2 linked regions of the Homo sapiens genome follow. The protein of the gene in region 2 purifies or fractionates together with the protein of the main gene of each other region. This does not show direct contact. Each region holds a gene or a part of one and is shown on either strand. Other genes may lie near its edges.

Evidence for each region. The genes of interacting proteins can lie anywhere in the genome.
Region 1: the proteins of UBE2G2 (region 2) and HNRNPAB purify together in Homo sapiens (affinity purification with mass spectrometry; 2 studies listed by BioGRID, with this or other methods). This does not show direct contact.

What each region holds. Positions count from the first base shown.
Region 1 is NC_000005.10:178,199,864-178,207,533, forward strand, and holds the start of HNRNPAB (heterogeneous nuclear ribonucleoprotein A/B), read left to right. Parts: upstream 1-4,669; 5' UTR 4,670-4,877; exon of another isoform or gene 4,878-4,951; 5' UTR 4,952-4,974; coding exon 4,975-5,183; intron 5,184-5,978; coding exon 5,979-6,147; intron 6,148-6,868; coding exon 6,869-7,027; intron 7,028-7,230; coding exon 7,231-7,362; exon of another isoform or gene 7,363-7,670. UniProt on the Homo sapiens protein: Binds single-stranded RNA. Has a high affinity for G-rich and U-rich regions of hnRNA. Also binds to APOB mRNA transcripts around the RNA editing site.
Region 2 is NC_000021.9:44,784,804-44,791,821, reverse strand, and holds part of UBE2G2 (ubiquitin-conjugating enzyme E2 G2), read left to right. Parts: intron 1-3,726; coding exon 3,727-3,762; intron 3,763-3,856; coding exon 3,857-3,902; intron 3,903-7,018. UniProt on the Homo sapiens protein: Accepts ubiquitin from the E1 complex and catalyzes its covalent attachment to other proteins. In vitro catalyzes 'Lys-48'-linked polyubiquitination. Involved in endoplasmic reticulum-associated degradation (ERAD).

The sequences.
Region 1 (7,670 bases), on a different chromosome or scaffold from region 2:
GAGTAGGCCAGGCTACAGTTTGAGAGAAAAAAAAAATCCCAAATCTCAGTGCCAGGCCCAGTACAGGTTCATTTTCAGCTTGTGTCAAATCTGATGTGGGCCGAACAGCTCTTCTCCATGAGGTAGCTCAGCCGTGTAGAACACATGGTCGCGGGGTGAAGGGAAGTCTGGACAAGGCCCCCAGTCTCCATGGCCCCAGCCTGAAAGGAACTCTTCCACTCACAGACCACACAGCAGGGGAGGCTGGCAAGGTGGGGGCACAGATTTCTGGGAGCCCCAACTGTCTGTCCCACTCGTATTCACCCGAAGTCAAGGCTAAGACTTCATCCTGACAGCACTGGGAAGTCAGCCAGGGTTTTCACACAGAGGTAGTGACAAGATGGGACTTGCATTTTCAGTTTTTCCTTTTTTCACTGTAGCTCTCAGATCTTATGACTTGTGTTTTAGAAAGATTCATCTGGCTAGAGGACTCCTCTGAAGCAGGGGAGCTGGAGTTTGGTGGAGCGGGGAAAGTGGCTGCAGCGGGAGTTGGCCACAGCAGAGGCACGATATATTTGTAGTTAACTCATGCAACTTCCACCTTGCAGGCTCAGCCAAAAAACCGAAAAAAAGAATGTGAGAAAAATCAATTCATGTAATTAAAAAACAATCCAAAAGCATTTTGTGTATGTCCTTTCCTAGATTGGAGATTGTCCACATTTTATGCATATATTCTGAATAGCCCAAACCCAGGGAGTGTATACTCTATGGGCCTTTTAAGAGATTTTCAGGGGTAACTGAGCTCCTGGCTGACTTGAGAACCTCACTGTCATGGAATTGCCCTCTACTCAGGGTCTGTAACTGAACCTAATAACAAAAGTAGGGAGGCTTGTGTCAAAAGGACTTCCTGCTGTTTCCCAAACAGTGTGGTGCCTTGCCTCTGGCAGAAACACCCTTGGATACAATATGAAGGCTTTATTTATTTATTTATGTAATTTCATTTTTTTGAGACAGAGTCTGGCTCTGTCCCCCAGGCTGGAGTGCAGTGGCACGATCTCGGCTCACTGCAAGCTCTGCCTCCCGGGTTCACACCATTCTCCTGCCTCAGCCTCCCGAGTAGCTGGGACTACAGGCGCCCCCCCACCACGCCCGGCTAATTTTTGTATTTTTAGTAAAGACAGGGTTTCACCGTGTTAGCCAGGATGGTCTCGATCCGCCTGCCTCGGCCTCCCAAAGTGCTGGGATTACAGGCGTGAGCCACCGCACCCGGCCCGGCATTTTTTATTTTTTGCTGAGACTGACCCCTACCTGCCTGCAGTTCTTTCTAGTTTATGAAGTGTTTTCTAAGCCATTACCTTATTTGAGCTTCAGGATTCTTTATTTATTTATTTATTTATTTTGAGACAGAGTCTCGCTGTGTCACTTAGCCTGGAGTGTAGTGGTGCGATCTCGGCTCGATGCAACCTCCATCTCCCAGGTTCGAGTGATTCTTGTGCCTCAGCCTCCCGAGCAGGGGGGACTACAGGCCTGGGCCACCATGCCCAGACTTTTTTTTGTATTTTTAGTAGAGATGGGGGTTCCACCATGTTGCTCAGGCTGGTCTCAAACTCCTGGCCTCATGGGATTCTCCTGCCTTGGCTTACCAAAGTGGTGGGATTACGGGCGTGAGCCACCACGCCCAGCTGAGCCTCAGAATAAATTAGATCTTTGATAGGAGATCTAATTTACATCAAGGAACTCAGAAGCTCAGACACACCTTGTCCCACAGTAGCCAGGAGCCCTGGAAACAATCCCCAATGTGGAGTTGGACGTGTTGGTTTCATGGCCACAGTTTTAGCTGTGGTTTCAGTATTCTTGTGTATAAAATATGGGTAACTGCACAAAGCTATTTTGAAGCTCCAGTAAAGCAAGGTTGGTGAAAGCATTTTGCAAACTGCTAAGCGCTGTCCAAATGTTGTATCCTCAGACTTTACACGTCACTGAAAGTGTTTCTGAGTCGTGCTAAAGAAATCCACGTGGAAGATTAAGGGAATTTATGCCTGCAGTAATGTCTTTGGGCTGCACCTACACTATTTGACTTTGAACTTAATTTCCTGAATTACCTTCACTGCTTGGGGAGCTGTGCCCATCATCTCCTGCAGGCCACAGCCCTGGCCCTCATTTCTGTGGGTTGGCAAGGGCTGGGGTGGAGGTGGGGTGAGCAGTTTGTTAGAGACCGCCCTGAAAGCCTTGCTGCCAGATCTCAGTGACATGAGTAAGGTCGTGTGGAAATATGTGACTTCCTGTTATGGAATTAGCCTGGGACAGTGAAGAGTGGCCTTGGGGTGAACCAGAGGGCACTTGCCCACCTGGGTATGGGTATCCCAGCTGCACTTGATTGTTACTTTGGGGGAAGGCAGTACAGTGTGAGCTAAATCTTCGGACTTTCCTAGAGAAGCCTGAAATCCACGTATCTTCATTTTTCATTCTCAGGGCAACTCCAGTGCCTGGGTGGAGTTAGTGCCTGAGTTGGTTGTGTAGCTTTGGGCCGCTGCTCTTGACTTCAGTTTTCTCATTTAAAATTGGTGATCCACCTGAGATCAGGAGTTCAAGACCAGCCTGGTCAACATGGTAAAACCCCATCTCTACTAAAAATACAAAAATTAGCCCGGCATGGTGGAACACACCTGCAATCCCAGCTACTCAGGAGGCTGAGGCAGGAGAATCGCTAGAACCTGGGAGGTGGAGGTTGCTGTGAGCTGAGATGGCTCCACTGTACTCCAGCCTGGGCGACAGAGCGAGACCCCCGTCTCAAAGAAAAAAAAAACCTGGTGATCTAGCTGGGCAACATAGGGAGACCCTGTGTTTACAAAAAATTCGCTTGGCGTGGTGGCCACGTTTCTGGTTCCAGCTACTTGGGAGGCTGAGGCAGGAGGCTCATTTGAGCCCGGGAGGTTGAAGCTGCAGTAAGCCGTGATCGTGCCACTGGACTCCAGCCTGGGTTACAGAACAAAACCTTGTGTCAAAAAATAAAATAAATAAAATTGGTGACCATACCACCTTACTTTGGTTGTTAAGATACAGAAGAGAAAATGGAATGCCCAGCCCACCACACTGGTCCTGGCTGCAGGAATCCACTGGAAACGCTAGTTCCTTGTGTTCTGGGTTGCTATTTGGTAACCTGCAGGCTCCAGAGGTTGTAATCCTGCTTGCCTTGGGGCCCACCACCCATATGATTAAAAGGAATAACGGGATTACCGAGGCCTTTAAAATTTTGTGGTCAAGGAGATAATATAAAGGAGTTTTGTGTATTAGGAAGAGAACAACGCCCCCACCCTGTCCTTTACCTCGTGAGTTCACGAGTGGTGTATTTGTTTTGTTTTGTTTTTGAGACGATGTCTCGCTCTGTCGCCCAGGCTGGAGTGCAGTGGCGAGATCTCGGCTCACTGCAAGCTCCGCCTCCCGGGTTCACGCCATTCTCCTGCCTCAGCCTCCCGGTAACTGGGACTACAGGCGCCCACCACCACGCCCGGCTAATTTTTTTGTATTTTTAGTAGAGACGGGGTTTCACCATGTTCGCCAGGATGGTCTCGATCTCCTGACCTCGTGATCCGCCCGCCTGGACCTCCCAAAGTGCTGGGAGTACAGGCGGGAGCCACCGCGCCCGGCCTCCGTATTTGTTTAAAAAAAAAAAAAAAAAAAAAAAGGCCGGGCGCGGTGGCTCACGCCTGTAATCCCAGTACTTTGGGAGGCCCAGGCGGGCGGATCACGAGGTCAGGAGATCGAGACCATCCTGGCCAACATGGTGAAACCCCGTCTCTACTAAAAAAACAAAAAAATTAGCCGGGCGTGGTGGCGCATGCCTGTAATCCCAGCTACTCGGGAGGCTGAGACAGGAGAATCGCTTGAACCCGGGAGGCGGAGGTTGCGGTGAGCCGAGATCGCGCCATTGCACTCCAGTCTGGGCGACAAGAGCAAGACTCCATCAAAAAAAAAAAAATAATAAAAAGGAAGAAAAAGAAAGACAAATGATTTACAGGAAAAAATTTAAGTAAACAAAAGTACAAATGCGATGTCAATCGTTCAGGTGGTGCCAGGGGACAGAGAACCGGGGAACACCAAGGTCTCATCGTCCCTGCAGAGCATCTCTGGGGGAGGCGACGGACAGGGCGCGAGCGCGGGGCTTGGAGGGCACCAAGGTCCAGGGGGATGGCGGGTTCAGTCCCAATCCCTCCGACCCGTGCTGAGGGCCTTGGAGGACCCCACTCGCCCAACCTCGGAAGCCCGGGTTCTGCCACTTCCAGCCACGCGTCCTTGGGCTGCGAAACTTTCTCCAGCCCAGTTTCCTCTTTTGGGACATGGGGAGGCGGAGGCTGCCAATGCTGGGATGGAGTCCTCGAGAGCAAGAGACCAGCGGCCTCGACGAGCTTACAATCCGATTAGGCCCTCCCACCGATGTGCTGTAGCTGCCCGCCGCCCTGGACCCGGCGCCGTCCCGCCCGGCTTCGGGAGCCCTCCGTAGCGGCCGGACTCGCGCGCGTTCTAAAATGAGGACAAAGCCCGCCCAGGTCTAGAGCGCGCGCGCCGTGGCGGCCAATGGGACGCTGAAGCTAGGTTGAGTGACGGACTTGAGCAGCCAATGAGTGTGCAGTTTGTTGCGATGTGGCACCCGGCTCCGGCATTATAAAGGGCGCCACGAGTCGGCATTGTCAGGCGGCGGCACCGCGCGGGACGGAGCTTGGCTGTTGGTCGGTGGGTTCCCGTGCGGCGGCGGCCAAGGAGGAGGAGACACAGTTGGAGCAGCTCCGTGGGCTGACTGGGGCGAGGCCTCAGCAGCGCGAGCTTGAGTGCGGCCGAGCCTGCGGCGCCTTCCCCTGCGGGTGGGGACGAGCGGGCCCCGCGGCGTCATCGGCGGCGAGGTGAGCGGCGGCCGGCGGGCGGGAGCTCTGGCGGGAGCCGCGCCGGCCTGACGCGCTGTCGCCGCTGGTTGCAGGAGCCGCCGCGCCTCGGCCTAGCATGTCGGAAGCGGGCGAGGAGCAGCCCATGGAGACGACGGGCGCCACCGAGAACGGACATGAGGCCGTCCCCGAAGGCGAGTCGCCGGCCGGGGCTGGCACGGGCGCCGCGGCGGGGGCTGGAGGCGCGACCGCGGCGCCCCCGAGCGGGAATCAGAACGGCGCCGAGGGCGACCAGATCAACGCCAGCAAGAACGAGGAGGACGCGGGGTAGGTGCGGCCGCGGGCGGACGGGGGCGCCGCCTTTGTTCCGGGGCCGCCTTTTGTTGGCGCCACGCGGCGGGGGGAGGGGCGGCGGCCTGGCCCGGGTCGGGGCTGGTGCGGCCCGCGGACTGTCGCCGCTGCGTTCGCGGGCCGGGCCTGGCGCTGCCACTCGCGCTGGAGTTTGCGGGAGTTTGTTGGGTCGACTTTGGCGCCGCCCCGGGGCCGCTCGCGCGCTGCCAGGGCCAGGGCCAGGGCCGGAGCCGGCGCAGGGGCGGGCGGATGGCCCGGAAGAGGGAAAGCGCTCGGACCCGGGGCCCGGCGGCGTCTTGGGCCGCGCCGGCGGCTGCGTGGGCGGAGTTGGCGCGAGCCGGGGCCCGGACCTCCCTCCTCCGCCTCTCCCGGGGGCGGAGTCACGGTCTGAACCCTGGGCGGGCTTGGTCCCCGGAAACATCGAGTTCCTTGAAACGAGTTCTCAGGAGTTGGTGGAGACGCTGGCCCTTTGCTACATGGTTGTAGAACACATGAATTTCCAGTTATGAGTGGTTAGGTCCCATACCCCTGGTGAGGTGGTCCCTTCTTTGCTTCTCACAGGCTGGGGCTGCAGAGCCTTGTTAAGCCTCGTTAGGGTCCTGGTTGAGTTCAATTTGGAGGGTAGTGGAGATTTAACATCTTTCTAAGGTGCTCCTTGCAGACTCTAAGGGTAGCTGTAGACTTCGTGAGAACTTTGCCAGGGCCAGTCCTTTCCAAAATCACAGCTTGCTTACAAGACTTGTTGCCGTGTGTCTCACCCTACCATTTCAGAAAAATGTTCGTTGGTGGCCTGAGCTGGGATACTAGCAAAAAAGATTTAAAAGACTATTTTACTAAATTTGGAGAGGTCGTTGACTGTACAATAAAAATGGATCCCAACACTGGACGGTCAAGAGGGTTTGGGTTTATCCTGTTCAAAGATGCAGCCAGTGTGGAGAAGGTAAGCTGGGTACTGGATTTCAGCAGTCTCAGTGGAAACGATTTGAATTCTAAGAGGACACCTTTCTTAAAGCATGACTAGTTTGTGTGGTCTGCATGTGATTTAAGTGCTTTGGGCAAAACCCAAAGCCGGAGGTTATGTTCCGGTTTTTGAGGGGATGAAAATACAGATTAAGCTGGGAGTGAGAGAATGTGCTGGAGTGGTTCGGGAAGATGACAGTTGACATTCATTACCTTTTATGTGCCTATTCTGGGTACGGCGCTAAACATCTGGGAGGATTACAAGAGAGTCCATGATTGGTATGATAGGCTTTTAGCCCCATTTTACAGGACAAAAACCAAAACCCTAAGGCTCAGAAATGTAAGTAGAAGAGGTCACAGCTAGTAGGGAGTGGAGGGAGGATTCCTTCCCCTGTGGCCCATCTTCAGCCTATGCTCCGAGTCCCTGCTGCTTCGCTTCTGGAGATGGGCCTCACGCTGGGACTGCTTGGGCAGGAAGAGCATGATCAAAGGCTTAAGTGTGAGGACTGTTTTCTAGGTGTCGAGGTAAACCAGCTGTACTTGAGGTTTGATGAAAATTGGGTTGGGAGGTTAAGCTGGGGTAGAATTTGGAGGGGGTGAAACACATGTTTGTATCTGTACTGGTGTCTTTATGGCTTAGAGAGAAGGGCCTTGTCTGGCTCGTGCTGCTGAGTCAGCCTGACCCCTTTCTGTTGGAACAGGTCCTAGACCAGAAGGAGCACAGGCTGGATGGCCGTGTCATTGACCCTAAAAAGGCCATGGCTATGAAGAAGGACCCGGTGAAGAAAATCTTCGTTGGGGGTCTGAATCCTGAAGCCACTGAGGAAAAGATCAGGGAGTACTTTGGCGAGTTTGGGGAGGTGAGTGTGGCTCTGGGAATAGCCCATCAGCTGCCCCTAAGGCTGCCTTCTTTCTGGTCCTTGGTATCCTTGGCTGGCTAGACCCTCCCAGGCAGGGCTTATTTTTCACCCTCTGTCTTCAATGGGGTCTTTTCTCCTGTGAGTCCCCTATATGCTCTGGGGTAGGGAGGTATTGGGCCTGAGTTTGCCTATGCTTTTTGCAGATTGAGGCCATTGAATTGCCAATGGATCCAAAGTTGAACAAAAGACGAGGTTTTGTGTTTATCACCTTTAAAGAAGAAGAACCCGTGAAGAAGGTTCTGGAGAAAAAGTTCCATACTGTCAGTGGAAGCAAGGTAAGGTGTTCCCAGCTCTGCTTGGCCTCCTGTGCTGCTGGAGAGCTGGCCCTTAGAGGGATGGGTTAGGGGTTGGGCCTCATGCAGGAGCTCTCCAGGTTGGTCAGACTTTACTATTTCTCTGAAGCGTATGCTGCCCTGATTGGGGCAGTGTTCCAATCCTTGAAAGACTTCTCAGGCTGGGAGGACTGCCAATAAACAACACAGGATGTGAGGGAGGTAGGAGAAGGTGGCCTCTGTGAATAGAGCAGGTTGAGTAGCCTCTTTAGCTCCTCACTTAAAGCTAGAGGTGACAGTTCTAGATTCTT
Region 2 (7,018 bases):
CTTTGGCTTTTCTAGGTGCACAGTGCAAAGCTCTTGGTGGATCTACCGTTCTGGGGTCTGGAGGATGGTTGTTCTCTTCTCACAGCTCCACTAGGCAGTGCCCCAGTGGGGACTCTGGGAGCTCCAACCCCACATTTCCCTTCTGCAATGCCCTAGCAGATGTTCTCCATGAGGGCCCTGCCCCTGCAGCAGATTTCTGTCTGGACATCCAGGCGTTTCCCTACATCCTCTGAAATGTAGGTGAAGGTTCCCAAACGTCAGTTATTGAATTCTTTGCACCCACAGGCCCAACACCACGTGGAAGCTGCCAAGGCTTGGGGTTTGTACTCTCTGAAGCAACAGCCTGAGCTGTACCTTGGCCCTTTTTAGCCATGGCTGGAGCTGGAACAGCTGGGACACAGGGCACCAAGTACCAAGGCTGCACAGAGTAGCAGCGGGGCTGGGCCTGGCCCACAAAACCATTTTTCCCTCCTAGGCCTCCCTGCTTGTGATGGGAGGGGCTGCTGCCAAGATCTCTGACATGCTCTGGAGACATTTACCCCATTGTCTTGGCGATTAATATTTGGCTCCTTGTTACTTATTTGAATTTCTCTCCAGAAAATGGGTTTTTCTTTTTTATTGCACCGTCATGCTGCGAAGTTTTCAAACTTTTATTCCCTGCTTTCTTTTAAACACGAGTTCCAATTTCAGATCATCTCTCTCAAGTTCAAAGTTCCACAGATCTCTAGGGCAGGGGCAAAATCTCACCATTCTCTTTGTTGAAACATAGCAAGGGTGACCATTGCTCCAGTTCCCAAGAAGTTCCTCTTCTCTTTTTCAGACCACCTCAGCCTGGGCTTCATTGTCCATGTCACTATCAGCATTTTGGTCAAAAGCATTCAGCAAGTCTCTAGGAAGTTCCAGACTTTCCCACATCTTCCTTCTTCTAAGCCCTTCAAACTGTTCCAACCTCTGCCTACTACCCAGTTCTGAAGTTGCTTCCACATTTTCAGGTTATCTTTATAGCAGTACCCCTGGTACCAATTTACTGTATTCATCTGTTTTCACACTCCTATAAGAACTTCCCTGAGACTGGATAATTTATAAAGGAAAGAGGTTTAATTGACTCACAGTTCCACATGGCTAGGGAGGCCTCAGGAAACTTATCATGACAGAAGCCGAAGGGGAAGCAAGCACCTTCTTCACAAGGTGGCAAGAAAGAAGAGTGAAGGAGGAACTTTCGAACACTTATAAAACCACCAGATCTCATGAGAACTCACTGTCATGAGAACAGCATGGAGGAAATTGCCCCCATGATCCAGTCACCTTCCACTAGGTTCCTCCCTCAACACCTGGAGATTACAATTCAAGATGAAATTTGTGTGGGGACACAAAGCCAAACCATATCAATGGACATTTGGGTTGTTTCCAGTTTGGGGCTATTACGAATTTAGCTACTATGAACATTCACACAAAAGTCTATGGCAACATAAGACCCAGTAGAATTGCTGGGTCTTAGAGTCAATATATATGTAATTTTAGTGGAAATGGTCAAACTTCTTTCCCAAAGGGTAACCAAACCATTTTGCATTCCCATCAGTGGTGCATGAGAGATCTACTTGCTAAACTTGCCAGCACTTTAAGTCTTTAATTTTGGCCATTCTTTTGTGACTAAAGATACTGATAATGCTGAAGCTATTGAGCTGTATCTTATTGTGGTTTTAATTTGCATTACCCTTATGATTCACAATGTTGAGCATTTTCTCATGTGCTTATTAGCCATCTGTTTTAGTCAGTTCAGGCTGCTGTAAAAAAATACCAAAGACCAGGGAGCTTAAACAACAAACATTTATTGCTCCCAATTCTGGAGGCTGGGAAGTCTGGTGAGGGCTGTCTTCCTGGTTTGCAGATGACTGTCTTCTCCTTGTGCCCTTACATGGCCAGAGGCAAATCTCTCGTTTCTTCTTATAAAGGCACTAACTCCATTCATGAGAGTTCTGCCCTCCTGACCTAATCTCCTCCCAAAGGTCCCACCTCCCAATACCACATACATTAGGATTCAACATAGGAATTTTGGGGGGACGCAAGCGTTTGGACCACAGCATCATTCGTGTTGACTCTGACAGTGGCTCTTTTCAACTCTGCCTCCATTTTTCTTCTTACCTATTTTGATTTTTATATGTGGTGTGAGATGGGGAAAGTTTGATTTTTTTTTGTCTTAGAGATGAGCATCATTCATGGAAAAGACTGCCCTTTGCCTCTGGGCCATAGCTCTGTGTTCCCTCGAGTCAGGGTCTCTGTTGGTACAGGTATGCTTCTGGGCTTTCTCTTGTGCCCCATTGTTCAATTTAACTTTGAGCCAGTGCTACGTTGCCTTAATTTCCATAGCTCTGTAAGGAAGGCTTGGTAACTCATAGATGAAGCTTTCTGTTTATTCTTTTTTTTTTTTTTTTTTTTTGAGACAGAGTCTTGCTCTGTCACCCAGGCTGGAGTGCAGTGGCGCGATCTCGGCTCACTGCAACCTCCGCCTCCTGGGTTCAAGTGATCCTCCTGCCTCAGCCTCCCAAGTAGCTGGGACTACAGGTGCATGCCACCATGCCCGGCTAATTTTTCTATTTTTGGTAGAGATGGGATTTCGCCATGTTGGCCAGGCTGGTCTCGAACTCCTGACCTGAGGTGATCCACCCGCCTCGGCCTCCCAAAGTGCTGGGATTACAGGCGTGAGCCACCGCGCCTGGCCCTCTGTTTATTCTTTTTAAAGATAGTGTCTTGGCTATTCTGGATTGTTTGCATTTTTATATATCTTTTAGAAAGATATATATATGCCTCATATTCAGCAACTGTGCCAAACTCACTTTTACTAATTATCTTTAGATTCTTTTGGGCTTTCCTGTATATATGGACATAGCATCTGTGAATAATGAGTTTTATTTCTTTTTCAGTCCTTATACCTTATATTTATTTGGCAAGGATTTATTAATTTTCTGTCTCTTCAAAGAACCACCTTTTGGTTTCATTGATTTTTTTTTTTCTGTATGTTTGCTTACTGTTTTATTAATTTCCCCAGTCTCACTCTGGTTGCCCACTGGACTCCAGCCTGGGCAACCAGAGTGAGACCCTGTCTCAAAACTAAGCAACAAAGTAACCAGCAGGAACAGTTTGGAAAGACAGTGTACCCCTTATGTTTGCTTTTGCATTTGTAAAAAGAAAAAGAAAAAGAAAAGTCTATGTTTTGTTGGTATAAAGAACTATTTGGGCCGGCGCGGTGGCTCATGCCTGTAATCCCAGCACTTTGGGAGGCCGAGGCTGGCGGATCACGAGGTCAGGAGATCTAGACCATCCTGGCTAACACGGTGAAACCCCGTCTCTACTAAAAATACAAAAAATTAGCTGGGCGTGGTGGTGGGCGCCTGTAGTCCCAGCTACTTGGGAGGCTGAGGCAGGTGAATGGCATGAACCTGGGAGGTGGAGCTTGCAGTGAGCTGAGATCACACCACTGCACTTCAGCCTGGGTGATAGAGTGAGACTCCGTCTCAAAAAAAAACAAAAAAAAAACAAAAAAACTTTGTGTAGTTGTTATCAGAACCGTTATTGTACTAGGTATTCACTTTGGGCAAACAGAATTTTCACTTGTTAATATGCATATTCTATGGTTTATAGGCTTATATATTTTGTAAAGGTGTTTTGTTAAAATGACAATGTAACATTTATTCTGTTTGGTAATGGTTTTACTTATTAATTTTATAGAATTAACACTGAATCCTCCGGAAGGAATTGTAGCAGGTAAGGTACCAAAGTTAACTTCCTTATAATTTACTTTTAATTGCCAAAGTTCCTTCAAAGTTAAAATGTTGTGAAATTTTTTCTCACCCTACAGGCCCCATGAATGAAGAGAACTTTTTTGAATGGGAGGCATTGATCATGTAAGTTAATTTTAGGTGTACTAGTTTTTAGGGCTTTGCTGGAAGTCAGATGTAAGAATCACATCAGCAGTGTGACTGTGTCCAAAAGCATCAGCTGGAAAAAAGACTGAGTTCTCCAGTAATGCCCAGCTCTCGTCTAGGCTGCTGGTCTGAAAGCAGAGAACCTGAGCATTGATCCAAAAGAAATGAGTGTTTCCTTAGAGCCAGTCAAAGGTTTAGTTATAATTATGTAATATATGTATTATATATTTGAGAGTTTTAAGGTGGTAATTTTGGAATGTTGTATGATCGTGGTTAAAATAACCTCAAATGGCGTAGGTGGCTTTGGCTTCCAGAAGTAGCCCCTTCAGGTGTGAAATTTTGACGAGAAAAGGGTCCTCAAAGATGTGTCTGACCACACCAGGCATGTTAGCGCAGCCTTGCCTGCCCTGCCTTTGGGCCAGGACTTCTTTTTCTTCTCCTTTCCTCCCAGTTCGTATCTTCGTGTGCTGCATCTCCTTTTTCTGTTGCCTTGTCTGGACTTGTTGGCCTTGTGTTCTTTCCGACCCAAGACATGGCTTAGTAAGTGAGCAGTGTGGTTCTGGGATTCGTGGCATTTAACTTAGGGTGACGTTGCTTGGAAAGAGAAACACATGGACCCCTGATTTTAGAGTGTTCTATGGCCTTGACTCACTTTGCTTTTTCTTCTTTCTACCTTAGATGTGCAATTTTTGGCCATTCTTAGTGTATTTTCAGCAAAGTGAGGTTAAATAAAATTTAGGAAGTTGAAATTTGTAATCAGTCTCTGTTTTCTTTCTTTTCTTTTTCTTTCTTTCTTTTTTTTTTTTGAGATGGAGTTTCGCCCTTGTTGCCCAGGCTGGAGTGCGGTGGCACAACCTTGGCTCACTGCAACTCCTGCCCCTTGGGTTCAAGCGATTCTCCTGCCTCAGCCTCCCTAGTAGCTGGGATTACAGGTACCCACCACCGTGCCTGGCTAATTTTTGTATTTTTAGTAGAGACAGGGTTTCCCCATGTTGGCCAGGCTGGTCTCGAACTTCTGACCTCAGGTGTTCCGCCTGCCTTGGCCTCCCAGAGTGCTGGGATAACAGGTGTGAGCCACCGCGCCAAGCCCAGTCTTTGTTATCTCATTAGTGAGGTCTTTTAATTTGCAGCAAGGTCTTGGGTTGGATTTTGTTGCATTGAGAAGTGCTCTAGAGGGCAAGGACCGGAAAAGTGAGGGCTGTGAAACAAGTGTGGGCTCTGGCTTGAAGTGATCTTAAGCTTCATGATGCTTTTGGAATTCGCCAGTTGCTTGGATCACATTAATTCTTAATGCTCTATGGGTTGGTCTGAGAAACAGATTGCAGCTAAGTGTTGTCTGTGGAGGTTAAATTGATATGAAAATTAGTATTTTGGATAAACAAAATGTTTTTAAAAAATCATCAAACGCTATTCAGATGGTACAGCACGCCTGCCATTTCCTGATCATTTGTAATATCCTAATTGCTTGGGCCTATGGCACATGTTTTTTCGGTGTCTGAAGGTTTCTGGAATCTGTGTTTGTGTGTAATGTGGCCCCCAAGGCAGTTATGAGATGGATGGCGAGTCCCACAGTCTGGGCTGTCCTCATTAGTGGACTGTGCGGCTGTATACTTGTATCGGGGCAGCTCTTTTTATTTCTGTAGAAGCAGGAGATCATATACATGAACTGATGTGTAACCTGCTTGTTTCATGTGTTAATGCAGGCGCACCTGCACTCATGCCAGCGGGGCAGCACGCCTGCTGCAGGGGCCCAGAGTGGCGGGAGGCCTGTCTGTGTGTAGAGGTTGAAGGCGCCTGTCGTGTCTGCAGTTATTTGTGGGGTGTTGGCTCCTCCGTAGGCCTATTTGGAAGCTCATTAAAGGAACAGTTGAGCCGTCCAGTGTGGTTTTAAAAAAATGTTCATTGTTAAAAATCGATTAGGGTAACTATTACCAATTTTAAATAAACAGTGTAAAATTAAACCAATATTTTGAAAACCTGTCTTAAAAAGTAATTAGAACTATTTTTAGGTAGAGCACTTCTGTGTTTGAACAAGGCTTTTTGCATTAGTTTGGAATTCCCCTGCTTGAAGATCCTAGTGAGTTTGTGGGTTTTGGTCCTGTTCCAGACCCTTCACAAACAAGAGGCCGTTTACAAGTGCACTTAAAATGCCTATTAGGGAATTAACTGTCCTCCCATCGATTTGTCTCACCCTGCTATTTTGGCAGACATCTGGCCAAGTCTTTGCTCCTTGGTGATAAGTTTCTTCTTTTTCTCTTTATTCTTTGATGGCTTCCAGGGCCGCCTCTCTACCCTAGTATTTCTAAAACCCGTGCTTGCCTCACAGAAGTCGAACGGCTGTTGGTTTTTGCTGTTGTGCTTGCCTTAAGGGCCAGTGAAGAAAATGTCATTTTAGATATCTAAGCAACAAACACTAAGTGCCTTTGATATGTTAGGGCCCTTGTCTGAAGATACAGACATGTCAAAGATGCACTGAAATCTTTACCTTGGAAGACCAGGGTTGAGGGATTAGGATGGAGAATAGAACAGATTAGTGAATGAGAGGACTAAATAATGAGAGTCCGCAGGCTGTGTCTTTAAACACCGGGAATAACTCTGCTGACCCTGCCACGCTCATGGTGGAGTCTGAGCCTGCAATCAAATCGAGCGTGGCTGGGATGGCGGCACACCAGGGGATGTGGCCACCGTGGCTGTGGGTGCTAGCATGGCCTGCTGCTCTTGGCCCAGTCACTTTGCCTCTCTTTGACTTATTTGGATCAAAACAGAGAGGTTTATCAGCATCTTCTAGACAGATGGTTACAGGTCTTGCCCAGCTCTAGGGTCCATGGCCCGTGACCCCATTGCCACTAAGCCACGGTGACGGGGGTGTAGCTGCAGAGAGGGTGGGTGCCCTCTTTCATTGATGCACTTATGTGGGACAGAAGGAGTCCTAGACAGCTGTTCATCCCCAGTGGCCGGACAAGGCGTGGAGTCCCTTGGCGCTTGCTGTCCTCTGTGTCCTGCCCCAGCATTCCCAAATCAGCTGGCTTGGTGACCTTCTTGTCTGGTTCATGCCTGACTGCTGTCACCTCCCCAGACCAGTGGTTCTAGAGGCT